Linked DNA regions of Homo sapiens: region 2 is linked to region 1. Evidence: fine-mapped expression QTL. Tissue or cell type: blood mononuclear cells. Region 1 holds a variant in brackets; the other region holds the start of a gene. All regions are shown on one strand. Distances are between the middles of the regions.

Region 1 (8,007 bases):
TCAGGGGGCCAGGTCCAGGTTTCTTCCCTTCCAGCTCAGGTGCTGTCCTTCCCCCATTTTCTCACTGTAGTGTCTCCCAGCCCCTGCTCTGGGCCTGGGTGGTCCCTTATTCCTATGAGAGGAGATAGGAAGGCCTAAGATGGCAGACTGAGGGCAGGAGGACAAGGTGTACTTCAGTCAGGGTAACGGGTTCAAGCTCATGTGTGTGCACGCACGTGTGTGTGCATGAGAGAAAACATGGATACTATACAGGGGAACTTCATCCTGACCTCCCACCCTAGCTTGGTTCATCTTTAAACTGGTTGTTTTACTTTAGGGAATTCCATCTGTCTGCTGAAAAATGAAGACAACCAGAGTAGATAGCATAACTCTGCCAGTGATTCAAATACTGAAGCTCTTCCATGTTGGTGGGTGAAAAGCTGCTCCCCCAAGTCCCTCGAGTGTCCCTGCCCCATCTCTGGGCCAGGGTCTGAGACCTCCTCACATCTCCATGACCCAGAGACAAAAGAGTTAATGCCTGGCACCACAGGGCCCTCCAAGACTCCAGGCCAGCATCCTTTCTGGTTGATGAATTATTGAATATCATTCCCGGGTACAGCCAGTCCTTAACTGTCTCAACACTGAAGTGTCTTCCAATTGTGGGGAACTGCGATTCTACCACCCAGAAGCTGCCATGGGCAGGCTGGGAGACACTTTCTCCTTCACCCTGACCCAAATTGGAGAACTGGGGCAATCCAGCTCCCTGGAGCTCCTCCTTGTGCTGTGTGCTCTTGTTCCCTTCTAAAGAGAGGGGGAATTCAAAGGAGAACCAGCTGCCTACAGCTCTGGGTTTTCCTCCTCTCAGCCTTTCCTCAGTAGCTAAGCCAGACAGAAGCAGAGAAAAAAGGCCCCAGCCCCCTCGCCTCCAAGTTGCCTTCTCCTGACAGCCAGCAATGTGGAACGGATCCCAAGGGGTAACAGGGCAGGGCAATAATTAATTATGCCCCCCCACCGCCCCGCCGCCTTCCAGCTCTGAGTTGAATCTCAAACCCCTGCCCTTCAGTGGCTGAGGCAGCCCAGCTGTCCGCCGCCGGGTCTATGGAAGGTCATTGAAACCATGTCTCTGCATCCCTAACTCAGCAGATCTGCTTCTGGTGTCCTACGGAGAGCAGCGACCCCACCCTGCCCCACCCAACGAAAGGAATTTTACAAAGTGGGTGTTTGGAGAGTTATGAAGCTGGCTGATCTCTCTCCTTCCCCATCCTCAAAAGCTACCAGTGCCTTCTTGGTTCCCAATCCAGCAATTTGAGAATCAAGCTGTCTGGTATCTTAGTTTTCTCATTTTAACAGTAAAACAATGGTATTGAGTGATGCCTTGTTGAGCAGACAACACAAATCTCCCACTGGACCAGAGAGCAGAGGAAGAAAGGTTATGATGCTCTGAAGGCATGTGGAATGAAGAGAAAAATAAAACGCATGCAATCTCTGGTCCTTACACTGGGAGGGAGGCAAGGAAGGCCCATTTTAGAATCAGGGAAGCTGAGGTGCATTGTCCCAGCTATAGTGACAGGAGAGGTCAGAAAAATTTGAGTCTTGGGCTCCCTTCTTTCTGTTCCTGCGATGCACCCAATCTGAGCTCCCTGCCCCTAGGAAAGCAGGAGAGAGCTTCATGGTTCAGGGGGAGATGCCAGCTTTTCAAGGTCTGCTCCAAGAACACAGTAATGAAAGCCACAAACTCTTTCACTGGTAATATCTGTGGGCTACAGGTCTGGGGACTGTGTGTGATGTGGGCTGGGGGCTACCCACAAACTTTAGTCTGACAACAGCTGCCTGGATGTAGGGGCATGGAAGGGCAGCCACACAAACACTGTCCACAGCCTGGCCTTTATTGCTGTGCCCCTGCCCAGCACCTCACACACAGGGGAACTGAATAACTGTTTGAGTTTGATGGAGCAGCTGTAGGGCAGGCCAGCAGGCTCACCACTGCCTGGAGGAGGGGGCACGTGCTGTTCCAGTTGGGATGCTGAATAGCGGCTGAAGGAGACAGGAGCTCAGCCTCAAATCCCTCTCGCCGGGATCAGTGTGCACAGTGCATCTGCTTCATGCCCCCTCCTGTCCCTCCCCTCCCTACTGGCCAGCCAGACTCTGATAAGAGTCTACAAAGCAGAAGCTTTGCCCTGGGAAGAGGAAAGCAGTAAACCAGCCAGAGCTGGAGAGCAGGAGCCTCCTGGCTGGAGGGTAGCACAGCAAGGGTTGAGGGGCAACAGCAGGCTCTAATGTAGTGCTGCTCCTCACCTGCCCAGGGAGACCCATTCTGCCTCCGGCCCCCAAGGAGGGCTCAGCTGATGTTCTCTCTCAGACTGGGAGTAATAGGGTAAGCTGGAGCCAGGTGGATTGTGGGAAATTATGAACACCTCCTTTTGCCAGGAGCAAGGAATCTGGAACTTCCCCTGTACTTGGGGAGCTTGCCAAGGACTCTGAGGGCAAAGCGATATCCCTGCACTGCTGCCTGCTGGTGGGGGATCCAAAGGGAGCCTAGGAACAAGGGCCACCCAAGGAACCAGCCAGAAAATGACTGTGCCTAGGAGAGCACTTGCTGCAGACTGAGACGATCCTTTGTGAGCTCCCCTGACGCCCCCGAGAGGAAGAGGGAGATCTGGAAAGGGACTGGAGAGTTGTGAAAAAAGCTGGCACATGATGGCAAGGAATGGACAGCGTGTGGATTGTCCTTAAGGAAAAGGGTAAGGCCGGTGGTCTCAGAGTCAGGAGTCTTGGTAACTGACCACTACTGAGTCACTGTCCCTTTCTGGGTCTCAGTTTCCCCACCTGCAACATGTAACGATACTGGAGTTGCTGGGAGGACTAAATATTTAAAACCTCTAGAAGAATGCCTGGCACATTGAGTTGTTTAGTAGTGGCTAATGTTATAATCATTAATAAAATAAGGGAATACAATAAATAGCACTATCCTAAATTTGCACCAAGTTGATAGCCACTAGCCGTATTCTATCTTGAATAATTAAAATTAAATAAAATTAAAATTTCAGTTCCTAGTTACACTAGCCACATTTCACTGTGTCTCAAGAGCCACAGTAGCTAGTGGTTACCATACGGGACAGAATAGTCACAGGACATTCCATCATTGTAGAACATTCTATTGGACAGCACTAGGCTAGATGTTCTCTAAGCCACCTTCCAGTTCTAATAGTTTTGAATTCTATGAAATGCAATTCTAAGCCAGTGTATCCTTCCACCAGCTGATGAGCTCAGTGTCTTCAGTAAATACAAGTTCCCTCATAGACCTAAACTAAGCTAAAAAGAAAGGAAAATCTGCTGTCAACAACAAAAAGTTAAAAATCAGAAATGATATACTCCAAAGTTCACTCAGAATTAATCTGGACAATCCATTGTTTTCGTTTTTTTGGGTTTTTTGTTGTTTTTGTTGTTGTTGTTGGTTTTTTTTTGGTTGTTTTTGTTTTTGTTTTTTTTGAGACACGTTCTTGTTCTGTATCCCAGGCTGGAGTTCAGTAGTGCGATTTTGGCTCACCGCAGGCTCCGCTCCCTGAGCTCAAGCAATTCTCCCACCTCAGCCTCCCCAGTAGCTGGAACGTCAGGCACGGGCCACCACGCTTGGCTAATTTGTTGTATTTTTAGTAGAGACACGGTCTCGCCGTGTTGGCCAGGCTCATTATTTTTAAATCACATGCATTAAGACTCCTCTGCACAGTTTGAAAGTATCATTACTAACAGCACTGGCCTGGTAGGAAACACTGGAAAAGGTCATCCAGCAGCTTAAGGAGGCTGGGAGAGAAGAGTTGGAGAAGGAAGAAGAGTTGGGGAGGAGGCTGGAGACACAGAGGACCTGTTCCTCCCTCCTGCTTTCCTTTTCCTTCCTGGATTGGCCAACCTCTAGCTGACGCTTGGGGGAGGAGGAGGAAAGGGAGGTCTTCTGTGGGGCCATTTGGTCCAGAGCAGGAGAAGCTGGCATGGAGGAGGACAGGGTAGAGGAAGTACCACCAAGGACAGCAGGCTTAGGATTCTTCCTTCCCTGCACCTCCCCTTCCCCACCCAGCACTCATCCAGACCTGGATCCTATGGAAATCACAGGTAAACAACCTGTTGCTAAGCAGACATCACAAGAAGCAGGTGCCAGAGAGCATCCACTGATAACCGGGGCTTACAGAGGGGAGGGAAGACAATCTCAGAGGAACGGAAGAGGTGCTCCTAGGCCTAGACCTAGCCTAGAGAACCTGCTGGCTATAGCCCAGATAAGGAAAAGAGAGGGCCTGAGAAGGAAGGCAGGGAGGCAGTCAGACAAGGGACACTGCTGTTCCCACCCCTGTCCTGCCACGCAGCAGCCGTGAAGAAAGACTGGGCATGGAGGCTGTGACAAGGAGGAATAGAGTACTCTGGGAGGGGAACAGAGAGGAGGAAAGGGAAAGGGATGCAGCACAGGTGCCAGCCGGGACAGAAGCCGGCCTCCATAAGTGACACCTGAGTAACAGGTGAGCCTGCCTACACCTGTTGGAGTATATGAGCAACTATTCTGCACCTGCAACTTCTGGCTGGGCCAGGAAATAAGACCAGCTGCACAATTTGCGGGCCCCTTGTGCAAAACTTAAGGATTTCAAGACAGCAATAGCAGAGCATTAAACCAAGCATGTGGGGCAACTGCACAGTTTGCATCCCCCATGAAGCCCCCCTGCCCTGCCTGGAAATAACAATCCCAGTATACTTCTCCTGGGAGTGTAGGGATGGAGGTTGGCTAGTCACATTTGTGGCTGACTCTCAATATGAGGCAGAACACAACAAGTATCCCCGTTCCTCTCCTATACTCTACTTCCCCTTCTTTCTTGGCCTCAAATGCCCAGAAACTTGGCTGCTTCTGCTCTCGCCCTGCTGGGTCTAGTGGCTGGCACCTTCCCCCTATTGTGCCTGGTTTCTGTTTGCCCATGGGCAGCCCAGCCAGAGGAAGCACCACAGCTGAAAGCCACAAGGGG[G/T]TTGGGTTTACCTTATCGCTCGAATCTGCTTTCTAAACTGGCACAGGGAGCACCCTGTTCCCACCTAATAGGCTCTCCAGAGCCCCGAGTTCCTCCCTAGGTTCAACCTAGCATCACTATGTCATCGAATCTCTTTCCTCCCAAGAAAGAGGCAAGGGAACAAAAGGGCTCCTAGCTGGGGGCGGGAGGAGAGTAAAGTAAGCACTTCCTTTTTGGTGACAGTCTCCCTCTTTTTTTTTTTTTTTAAATCACGTGGGCATTCATGAGTACACACACAGAGAGATAGCATCAGCTGAGAAAAGCCAGTGCGTCCACCTCCTCCTCCAAGCCAAGGAATTCTTGTCCACACCCCCTCCACAAAACTGTCATTAGAAGGTGCCAGGGTCAAAGAGCACAAATGTTTTGGAGGTTGAAGGGATGAGGGACCTGAAGGGGAAGTTGAGGGAATGGGGGCAACAGAAATCTAAATGCAAAAGGTTGGTTCTCTTTCTCCCTGGATTTCAGTTTTGTTCTCAACTGACAACCTTGTCTTCTTAATGAGTGAAGAGTTCTCCCCGCAACTCTCTGCACCCACCCCCGCCAGGTTCTGTCTTACCCTACATCTCACCACACCTGACTCTGCTAAGTAAAAGGATAAAACCAGGAGCACAGCCATGCCAGTCTCCTGTGGCTCTGTCCCCTCCACCTTCCTCCCGTGGCCCCATCCAGGAAATCGGCCCACAAGAGAGGCCGACGCTGCTTCTGACCAGAGCTACCGAGCGCCTCTCTGGAGACAATGGCTCAGAGAGAAGGAGGAAGACTAGCAGCTCCAGCTTTGTGCTCAGGGTGGCCACACAAAACCATTGTCTTGACATCAGGACAGACAATGGTTTGTATCTCTGGCTTCTGCGCTGAGCAGTTCACTCCCTTGGACTAAGATAATTTTAAAGATTTCCTTCTAATAAATAGTAATGATACTGGAATCTGGCCTCAAGCTGAGAATTTGTATCTGGTTGTAACAAAAGCCCACTCTGGCTGATAGAATGGGTATATCTAGGCTTCCTTTTCTGTTCCAGAGCCACCCAGACAAACATAGACCAGACAGATAACCACTTACTCACCGGCTCTTCTTTGCTGTTCCCTCTGCTGCCTCTAGCCCTGACTCCTTTCACACTGAGGAGTAGGGAGAAGGTTTTCCTTTAATACTCACCAGGTCCCTGGTGGGTAGCAATCATTAACAGCCACACATGCTGGCTGGCCTTAACCCCTTCAGTGCTGGGTTGCCTCAGCCAGCCGGAGCTGGCTGATGGACAGCCCTGTCCCTTCTACTCTGCCCTGAGAAAGTAGCAACTCCCACCTTGATGCCATCCACCTGAGTAATGCTGCCGCCTCCCATGTGGAGAAGGAGAGCCCTCTAGTCCCACCCAGGCCGCCCCGCCTGATTGGAGCACACTTGCAACCTGAGGCGTTTGGCTCTGGCACGATGCCCAATTGGATGAGCCCACATTATGAAATATTTGCCTGGCGGGCCAATAGAGGAACTGGGATCTGGGGGAGGGATGATATTGTTATTTATTCCTGGAGGAAGGAGAGCAGACAAAGATAGTCACAGCATCCCTAGCCCTGGGATGGGAAGCAGTGGGAAGGTGGTCTTCAGATCCATGGAACTGCCTCTAACTGCTCTGTCCAGGTAGAGTGAACTAATTCTTGAAGCTTTCTAAGCAATTTGAGCCTGGCTGTTCAGCTAGAGGGTTTGTTTTTATTTTTATTTTTTTACCTTAATGTCTCTCTGCGCCACTCAGAAGTTTGGAGAGCAGCACTAGGAATTGTAATAGAGATTAAGAGGAGAAACACATTGTCAGTCAAGGAACTGCTTCATATCTGCATAAACTATGCAACCACAGTTATTGTTTATAGTTCAAAGTTGCAGAAATTATTTTAGTGTCTTTGGAGGATACAGACGGAAGGTGAGCAAGAACAAGAAGAGATAAATTCCCTCTTTATCCTTTAAAAATAGGCAACTGATTTGGGGGAAATCTAAAAGTATCTACAAGCAGGACACATGCAAATCTATGCAGATGTGTGCAAATGAGCAGCGCCGGGCTTGTGAGAGTAAGTCCTTGCCAGGATTTTCCTCATTTGAGGAAGAAATTAGGTAGTCTCTAAACCCCATATCAGAGCATCTCACTAGAGCATAAGGAACTCAATAAGCCTATATTTATTGAGCATTTACTCCATATGAAACAGAGTGCCTTTAAGTACAGCCCAGTAGGATTTTTCTTTTTTACCATGATCATAAATGGGATATACAGAGAATACAAGTTCCCTCTCCCTACACACCCACAATTAATAGCCCCTTCTCCTTTCAGGCCCCAGAGGAGTGATTTGGCTACTCCTCCTCTTGCCAGCCCGGATTTAGTAGCTGGCACCTCCTCCTTATCACCCCTGGTTCCTGTTTGCCTATCAGTAGCCCAGCCACTGTGGCTCAGGACCCTGCTTTAAACCTGCCAGGGGGCCTTATCTTATCTCCTGGGCTGCCTTCCTAGCAGCCCGCGGGGTGGCTGGCTGGCCGGGTTCCTTAAAGGGGCTGCACTGCATTCCCACTTGCTCCATTCACCCTCAAGAGTACCCCAGAGATCTGGAGGTGTTCTACTTGTGTAGGGTCAGAATTTACTATACCACCCTTCCTTCCCATCCTTTACAGTCACAGCTACTGTAGAGCTGCTACTGAAATGATCTATGACTTAGAACAGAAAGATGCTCATGCTTTTAGAGCCATTGTAAATGTTTATCATGTCATGCAAATGCCCTGCCCCTTGATATTTTCAGGTTCCTGCTCTTTTAAATTCAATTTTCAAAGCAAGGGAGGAGAGGCTCAGGATACAAAGTCTATATAGAAAAATCAGTTGTATTTCTATATACTGGCAACAAACAATGAAAAAAGGAAATTTTAAAACACCATTTATAATAGCATAAAATTAAGGGATACTTTTGACAAGGGATGTGCAAGACCTATACACTGAAAACTATAAAACATTGCTGAAAGAAG
Region 2 (8,007 bases), 73 kb after region 1:
CACTTAGTCTTGAACAAGGAGACTTGGGAGGGCTTGGAGGGAGAGAGACGATTATACCTGTCTTCAGATATCTATGTTTCTCATGCAAATCAACAAGGTAATAATAACAAACACATTTATCACTTATTCTGCTCAGCAGGATTCTATGTGCTTGCATATGTAACCTCATTTATCTTCACAAGAAGCTTATGAGATAGGTAGCATTATCTTCATTTTACAAATGGAGAAACTGAGGCACAGAGAAGTAAAGCCACTGTTAGCATCATATCACTGGTAAATGGTAGATTCCAGATTCAACCTGAGTTTGACCCCATAACTACGTTTTGTTTGTTTGTTTGTTTGTTTTGAGACAGAGTCTTGTTCTGTCACCCAGGCTGGAGTACAGTGGCACGATCTCGGCTCACTGCAACCTCCGCCTCCTGGGTTCAATGGATTCTCCTGCCTCAGCCTCCCAGGTACGTGGGATTACAGGAAGCCAGCACCACACTTAGCTAATTTTTATATTTTTAACAGAGATGGGGTTTCACCATGTTGACCAGGCTGGTCTCAAACTTCTGGCTTCAAGTAATCCACCCGCTTCGGCCTCCCAAAGTGCTGGGATTACAGGCATGAGCCACTATTCCTGGCCAACTGTGATCTTAATGACTCTGCACACACTGCCTTTTAAGAAAAGCCAAAGACTCGAACACACAAATATGTTTATTACATGGACATATTATATATTGCATTGTTATTAATATGGACAATGTCACATTTGATAAGTCTCTTTTTAAAAATTGTCTCACTCCCAGTCAAACAGATGGATCGAAGCAATAAATGAAAACCATGAAAAAGTTGTAATACTCAATGTTGATGCTCATGGCACACACACACACACACACACACACACAAAAAAAATCCATTCTCAGACACAGCTGCGAGGAATGTAAATTAGTGCTTTTGAACGAGGTATTTGGCAAAATATTTTAATAATGTAGCCATTTCACTTCTAGAAATGCAACCTAAGGGAAAAAAGTATTGATATGTGTGAAGATTCAGATATTTATATGTTCATTGTAGCCTTGTTTATAAAAGTAGAAAATTGGAAATACCTAGTTTAACATAGGGGCCAAATCAACAAATAAATTGAAAAGGTATATAATGAAATATGAGACAGCCACTTTAAAATGATGCTGTAAAGGCCAGGTGTGGTGGTTCACGCCTGTAATCCCAGCACTTTGGGAGGCCGACGTGGGTGGATCACTTGAGCACAGGAGTTCAAGACCAGCCTGGCCAACGTGGCCAACTCTATCAAAAATACATAAAATTAGCCAGGTATGGTGACATGCACCTGTAGACCCAGCCACTTGGGAGGCTGAGGTAGGAGGATCGCTTGAGCCTAGGAGGTTGAGACTGCAGTGAGCAGAGATTGTACCACAGCACTCCAGCCTGGACAACAGAACAAGGCCCTGTCTCAAATAATAATAATAATATTAATAATAATAATAATGCTGTTAAAGAATATTTAATAATATGAAAAAATGCTTTCTGTTTAAGTGACAATAATACACATCTGGGCCAAAATTTTAATGATATATATGTATTGTGATAATCTAGACATACACTCATGCATGAATTCATAAAAGTACAAGTATACCAAAATTAAAATTATATATCAAACCTATGGGTAATTCTTAACTTTGCTTTAGGTTTTTCTACATTTTTAAATGACAATGTATTACTTTTACACTCACAGAATAGTAATTCTTTTAATGTACACCCTTCATCACATTAATTCTATGCCTTGGAATTTATCCTAAGTCACCCAAAACACAGAAAGAGCCTTATGAACAAAAATGTTCCTCTTGTGCTATCTGTAAAAGGAAAATAAGGTAACAACCTAAATGTCCAATATAGAAATGATCATGTAAAATATATTACATCCACACACGGACTATTATATACTATTTTAATCAAAAGAAAACTATTTTTATGACCACGTAAAAGAGAGAGGTGACTTGTTCTGCACAGCTTCAAAGAATCAGAACCAGAGGGTGGAACTTAGAAGTCGGCAGATTTTGATTCAACATAGAAGAATGTTCCAGCCACAGAGGAAGCTGCCTTGTGAGGTAATGAGCTCCCTGTCACTGAAATTATCCAAGTGAGGCTGCTGCTTCTGTCAGGGAGGCTGAGGAAGGCTCATCTGGATGTGGAGGGAGTCTGGACTAGATAGTCTCTGAGGGGCGTCTGAAGGTTGTAGGTGCTGAGCAGGAGCCCCCTGAACAGACAGATGGTCAAGGGAAGGCTTCCACTCAGCCTACCCTCAACTTCTTTTCCTTCTGCTCCCAGTTACTCTAAATGTCTCCCAAAATATAGTCTTTTTTTCCTCTCTGAATGTGCTTTAAGTGTTTGGAGACTGGCCTGCTCAAGTCCCCTCATTAAGCCCTGGCTTCCTGAGCCCGTTCGCCTCACCCCAGAGCTCAGGGGAGTGCGAATCCTGCAGCTCTTTTGTGAGGCACAGCTCCAACCTTCCTCTGGGGGGCCCCATGGGTGCGCCAAGACCAGTGCCAATGACCTCATCAAATTCACAACAGGCAGTGAGGAAGACGATGAGGAAATTGGCTCGGAGAACGGAACCGCAGCCTGTTCAGCACCAGTTGACACCACGCTCCCATCTGCTGTTGCGGCTTCTTCACTCTGGCCTAGGCCAGTCCCCTGGGCCAAGAGAGCTCGCTCTATGAGCCCGAGGCTGCAGGCTGGGTCTGGGCGAGGTGGGGGCTCTGATGTCAGCCCGGGAGCCAAGGTGGCTGCCTCCCTCACTGACTGAGGGATCAGTAATTATTTCATTTACAAGCAGAAATAATCCAACTCAATAATCCAGGCAGACACATTCAAAGTAATTATCTGTGTAAGGCGTCCTGCACCATCACCTTCCTAGGAAGGAGGAAAAGAAGCCTAGCCCAGCAAAAAAAAAGCAGGTGGGGACCCCCATTGTCTGCAGCCTGTGTGCAGCAGCCTGCCAGGATTAATTACACACCAGTGCTAACACATTTATCACCTCGCCGCTGATTGGAAAACCAATGACTTTTAATAATTCATATCTGTGGCTCGGCACTCTGTGCCCTTGTGCAAAGACACAGAAACTCGCTTGTTTCCATAAGGAAAGCCCAGTGGCAGTGCCAGGAGGGGTGCCTTCAGCCCCTCCTGCCACCCCAACCTGGAGACAGGCCAGAGCCTAGCCGCTCCCACCTCCCCTCCACCAGCAGGGTCTGCTCATGTCCTGCTGAAGCTAAAATGCAGCTGCTCGGGGGTGAAAGCTGGCGACTGAACCGTCCTAGCCACAGGAGCCCTCCTCAGTTTCATACTCTTCCAGGGTGGCCTGGAAAACAGGATTTGGGAGATTTGTAGGGCAAGTGCCCGCAGTGCCCCCGCACCTGCCCAGACAGTGGGCTCAGGCAGATACCTGCCAGCCAGGACCCTGCCCCACCATGCAGGAGACCCTCAGCAGAGTGCACCACTCAAGTGATCAGATTGAGGGTAAAGGGTCTACAGGGCTTTGGGAAGAGCCTCCAATCCCTGAAGGCTGCAACCTCCTCTGACACCAGCTCTGAGCTCCAGCCTCCTCCCCACCACCTTCCACCCTCCTGCAGCTCTCCCTCCCCACCCCTGTGCCCCGGGGATGGCTCTCCCTCTATCCCGGTTCTCCATCTCTGCTCTCCCAGGCTCCACAGCCCCCTTCCCTGCCCTGGCTGGCCTGTTGTCTCAAAGAGCATTTCCCAGGAGCCTCTTCTCCCTTCTTCTCCCTTCTCCCCCACCCCCGCCACTTTCCTGTCTCGCCCCGCTTCCCTCCCCTTCCACTGTAGCCCTCCTTACCCTTCTCTGGCCAGTCCCCCAACTGTCCTCCTTTCCTCAGACTCCTCACACAATACCTCGAGGCTCTTAGCTGGCTGCAGCCTGGTCCCATCATTATAAATGCCATCCCCTCATTCCCTGCCCTCCTCTACCACATACCAGGCTCCAGCTCCTTCAAGAGCTCCCCACTAAATCTGAGACCCCCAGAGCTCAGATGCGTCCTAGGAATTGGAATCCAAGAGCCTCTGTCACCCTTCGACCCAACCTCTGACTCATAAGAATGATACACACCCTGACCCCTCCCCACGCTGAGGAAGGTGAGTCCCTGGGGCTGACCTGAGCCTGACCCTGGACCCCCTCCCTCTCTCCTTCCTGCTGGCAAGATTAAAGGGAGGGTGGGCTGGCCTCTCTGTGCTAGCTTGCGTGGGGGACCCCTGCTGGACCCTAGGAAGCTGCCAGCCCCAACGCTGCCTTCATCCAGGAGATGCAATTCAAATGTAATCAATTTAAACAGCATCAGCCCTGACAGGGGACTCTGGAGGTGGGGGTGGGGGCACAGGGAGGGCTATAATTAGCATTCTCAGCATCCATGATCCCCAAGTAAGGCTGCCAAGGATGAGAGATGGGGAAGCCAGTGCTCCGCAGTGCAAGCAGCCCAGGCTCACGCGGCAGACAGGCAGCTGCCAGCCCTGACCAGAGCCCAGCCTTCCTCCTCCCACCTCATCTATGTGATGCATGAAAACAGACTCACCGGCTTCTGAGGTGTGATCCCCGCGCTGGAAAGCTCTAACTCTGCGAGCCCCAAGGCACCCCTCCCCCCAGCTCAGGCCAGCTGGGGTCCTCCTCCCCCGCCCCTGGGGCCCCCTTCTGCAGAGCGGGGCTCCGGATCTAATCTGATCTAATCAGTCATCTCTCCGGCTGGCAGGTCCCTGGCGCAGGGAGAGGATGCTGTTGTGGTTACTGCAGGATCCAGCATCTTTCCCAGGCAGAGGCAGCTGGGCATGCTCCATCGGCTCCCCCGGGGATTTCAGGGCCACGTGACTCTCCCTCCCCAAGCTGTCACTTAGGATCAGGAGTAAATAGTCCCCGAAAAGGTTTAACTCCATCCACACCAGCGACAAGCTGCTAACCATCCACGCAGCCTGCCTGCCCGGGAGAGGATGGGGTGGCTCAGCACAGCCTCCTGGGCCTTCCACCACCAGGAGAAGGCTGCCCCCCAAAGGGGAGCAGGGCCACCGTCTGGGTAAGCTGCATTTTTAGAGTCCCCCACAAGAGACTGCAGGGAGCCAGAAACTGCCCAGGGTCTTAGAATCATGTGTGGGGCCTCACCCAGCCAGCCTGGTGATCACCTTTCACCTCTGTGGCTGTCTACTCCAGAGAGGGGCACGTCTCTAGGTGTCAAGAGGGCTTGGCTGGGGCCCTGGGGCCTCCCCATCCCCCGCCCCCCCCCCAATATGGTGAATTTAGAGAAATAACATTTGGAGAGGGTTGGGGGCCACTATGAGATGCCAGGATGAGTGGGGTGTGAGTGGGTTGTGGAGCCACTGCCCCCACACCAACCAGCCAGGCTCCTCCCAGGCCCTGGGAGGGAAGTCTGTGCTCCTGTTCCTTCCGTTGCACATTCCTTTACAGATAAGGGCTTCAGTTGGTAAAAATGATATAGGTACTCAGATCACACTAAGACAGACCCACTTGTATTGGAGTCGAGAGGCTTAATTTTTTAATCAAGTTGTTCTAATAATAAACAAAAAATGCAATTATCAGGTGAGTGGGGCCTTGCAGAAACCCTTTCTCTAGCTCCTGCCCAAATCGGTCTTGATAACCCTGAGCAAGGATGCTAGCCAAGCTACGGGGTACCTGGGTTCTGTATTATTCAGGATCAGAGGCAGAAGGAAGGACTTCAGACAATAGGGTCGTAGCTCTGTTTCTGCTTAGACAAAGATTGCTTTCTGCCTCAGTTTCCCTTTATCCACATCTCTCTCAGTTTTCCTCTATCCACGGATTCTCTGTGACAATGGGCAAGTGTAATAAAAACACTGATTTCATAAACAGGATCAGAAAGATGGAAAAAACCAAAAGATTCCCACCTCAACCTCCAGGCAGGCTCGCTGGTCTCAGTCCCATCTGCCCCTTAAACCTGGAAACTGGGGACTGAACCAGATGAGCTTCTGGAGTCACTTCTGAATAGAGAAATATGTCAAGAAGCAGGAGCTAGAGAAAGGGTGTCTGCAAGGCCCCACTCACCTGGTGATTGCATTTTTTGTTTATTATTAGAACAACTTGATCAAAAAATTAAGCCTCTTGACTCCAATACAAGTGGGTCTCTCTTAGTGTGATCTGAGTACATATATCATTTTTACCAACTGAAGCCCTTATCTGTAAAGGAATGTGCAACGGAAGGAACAGGAGCACAGACTTCCCTCCCAGGGCCTGGGAGGAACCTGGCTGGTTGGTGTGAAGGCTGTGGCTCCACACCCCACTCACACACACCACAGCATTGGAGGAAGACAGGGACCTAGAGAGCTACTGAAGGGACTGTCTTTCCCACCCCAGGGCAGGCCAGGCTGGAGCCAGGAATCTGGGGTTAGGGCAGCAGGCGCAGCTCAGCAGCACTCTTGGGGAGGGGGACTCTTGGTCACCTCCCACTGTTCCCCTGCCCAGCTGAGATGTCAGGCCAGCCCTGCATTGGCTATAGGAAAGCTGCTCTGCTGAAGGGGCAGACAAGTTGTGGATGAGGGCCCAGTGCCAGGCAGGACCGATCAAGCCCAACTCACCTGCCCTGGCTCTCCAGGACTTGGCAAGGCTGCCAGGTGCAGGCAGGGGGAGAGTCTGCTTTCAGTCAGCCAAGATGAGGGGCTCTTGGGGGTCTCTGACCCTGCGGAGCCAGTGGAGGAAAGGAGTGGAGGCAAGAGATTACAGCATCCCAGAGGGAGGCCGGGGAGGGGGACAGAGACCCCAGCCCAAGCCCCCACAATCCTCAGGCAGCTGGAAAAGGCAGGCGACCAACAGATGGGCCTGCTGGGCGGGTTTCCTCTCTGGCAGGCAGAGGGCAAGGGCCGCAGACGAGTCCCACGGATCCTTCGAGAAGCCTGAGCCAGACATGTGAATGTTTCTGGGGGATCTGAGTAGCTTCAGGGGCATGAGAAGCCAAAGGGAGGGTCGGTGTGGGGTGCATGCCTTTAGCTGGGGGACCAAGGCGGAAGAGATGTGGTAGCATGAAGATCTTAGAGCTACAGCAAGGACAGGTGAGGCGGATGGACCAGAGATAATAAATTCCCTTTGCCAAATCTAAGTTCTTGCTCTGCGAGCCCAGAAGAGGAGAAGCAAGCCTCACCTAAACAACTCCAATGGGGAAGGCGTGAGGTGGCGTGAGGGAGGGAGGATTCCACAGAAAGCACCTCTGCGATCCCGTCTCTCCTCTGCTCTACAATCACTGGTCCCCATTGCTCAGAGGATCAAGTCCAAGCTTCCCAGGCACCTACTCATGGTCTCCAAACACACGGGTCCTCCCCACCTTTCTGGTGCCATCCCCACTCCCTACCATACAGTCTTGGTGGCCACTAACTTGACTGGCTCACTGCCCATTCAGTGGAACTGCATCCACATGGGTCTCTCTTCCTCGCAGAACATGCCAACTAGGGGCAGCAAAGGGAGCTCCGTGGGATGAACTAGCTCACTGCAGCCTCCACCTCTACCTGGGCTTTAGCAATCCTCCCTCCTCAGCCTCCCAAGTAGCTGGTACTGCAGGTACACACCACCACATGCAGCTAATTTTTTAGTTTGTTTTACAGACAGAGTCTTGCTATGTTGCCCAGATTGGTCTCCATCTCCCAGGCTCAAGCAATCCTCCTGCCTCAGCCTACTGAGTTGCTGGGACTTACAGGTGTGAGCCACCATGCCTGGCTAACGATAACCTGTGTGACTTGGAAGCCCAGCTCCATCCCTGAGTAACTCACTGACTGAACAAATTACTTGACTATCCAGCCTGTTTTCCTCACCTGCAAATGGGCTTCTTTGAAGCCCAGCACATTCACTACCTTTTCTCCTCGGCCGCCTCCTTCTTTACTGTTCTGGGGTGTTATCTGCCTTTCTAAGCCTAGAGCTAGTGGGGTCACTGTACCAGAACTGCTGCCCCAGCACTCCTGTGCTCTGTCCTGTCTGCCTTCTGGAGACAAC

Evidence for each region. PIP is the estimated chance that this variant, and not a neighbour inherited with it, causes the effect.
Region 2: it holds the start of PLEKHA6, and the variant in region 1 is fine-mapped to the expression of PLEKHA6 in blood mononuclear cells (TOPMed, PIP 0.97).

What each region holds. Positions count from the first base shown.
Region 1 is chr1:204,282,026-204,290,032 of GRCh38, forward strand. All of the region lies in intron 1 of PLEKHA6 (pleckstrin homology domain containing A6), which reads right to left. Among named protein-coding and RNA genes, the nearest start is that of GOLT1A, 72 kb to the left of the region's middle. RefSeq lists a silencer at 690-893 and enhancers at 1,478-1,979, 1,980-2,479. The variant G/T (reference allele first, on the strand shown) is at 4,980.
Region 2 is chr1:204,355,112-204,363,118 of GRCh38, forward strand. PLEKHA6 (pleckstrin homology domain containing A6) reads right to left here and starts at 4,818. Exons shown (of 23, transcript NM_014935.5): 1 at 4,583-4,818. RefSeq lists enhancers at 2,101-3,028, 3,029-3,955, 4,071-4,706, 7,694-8,007.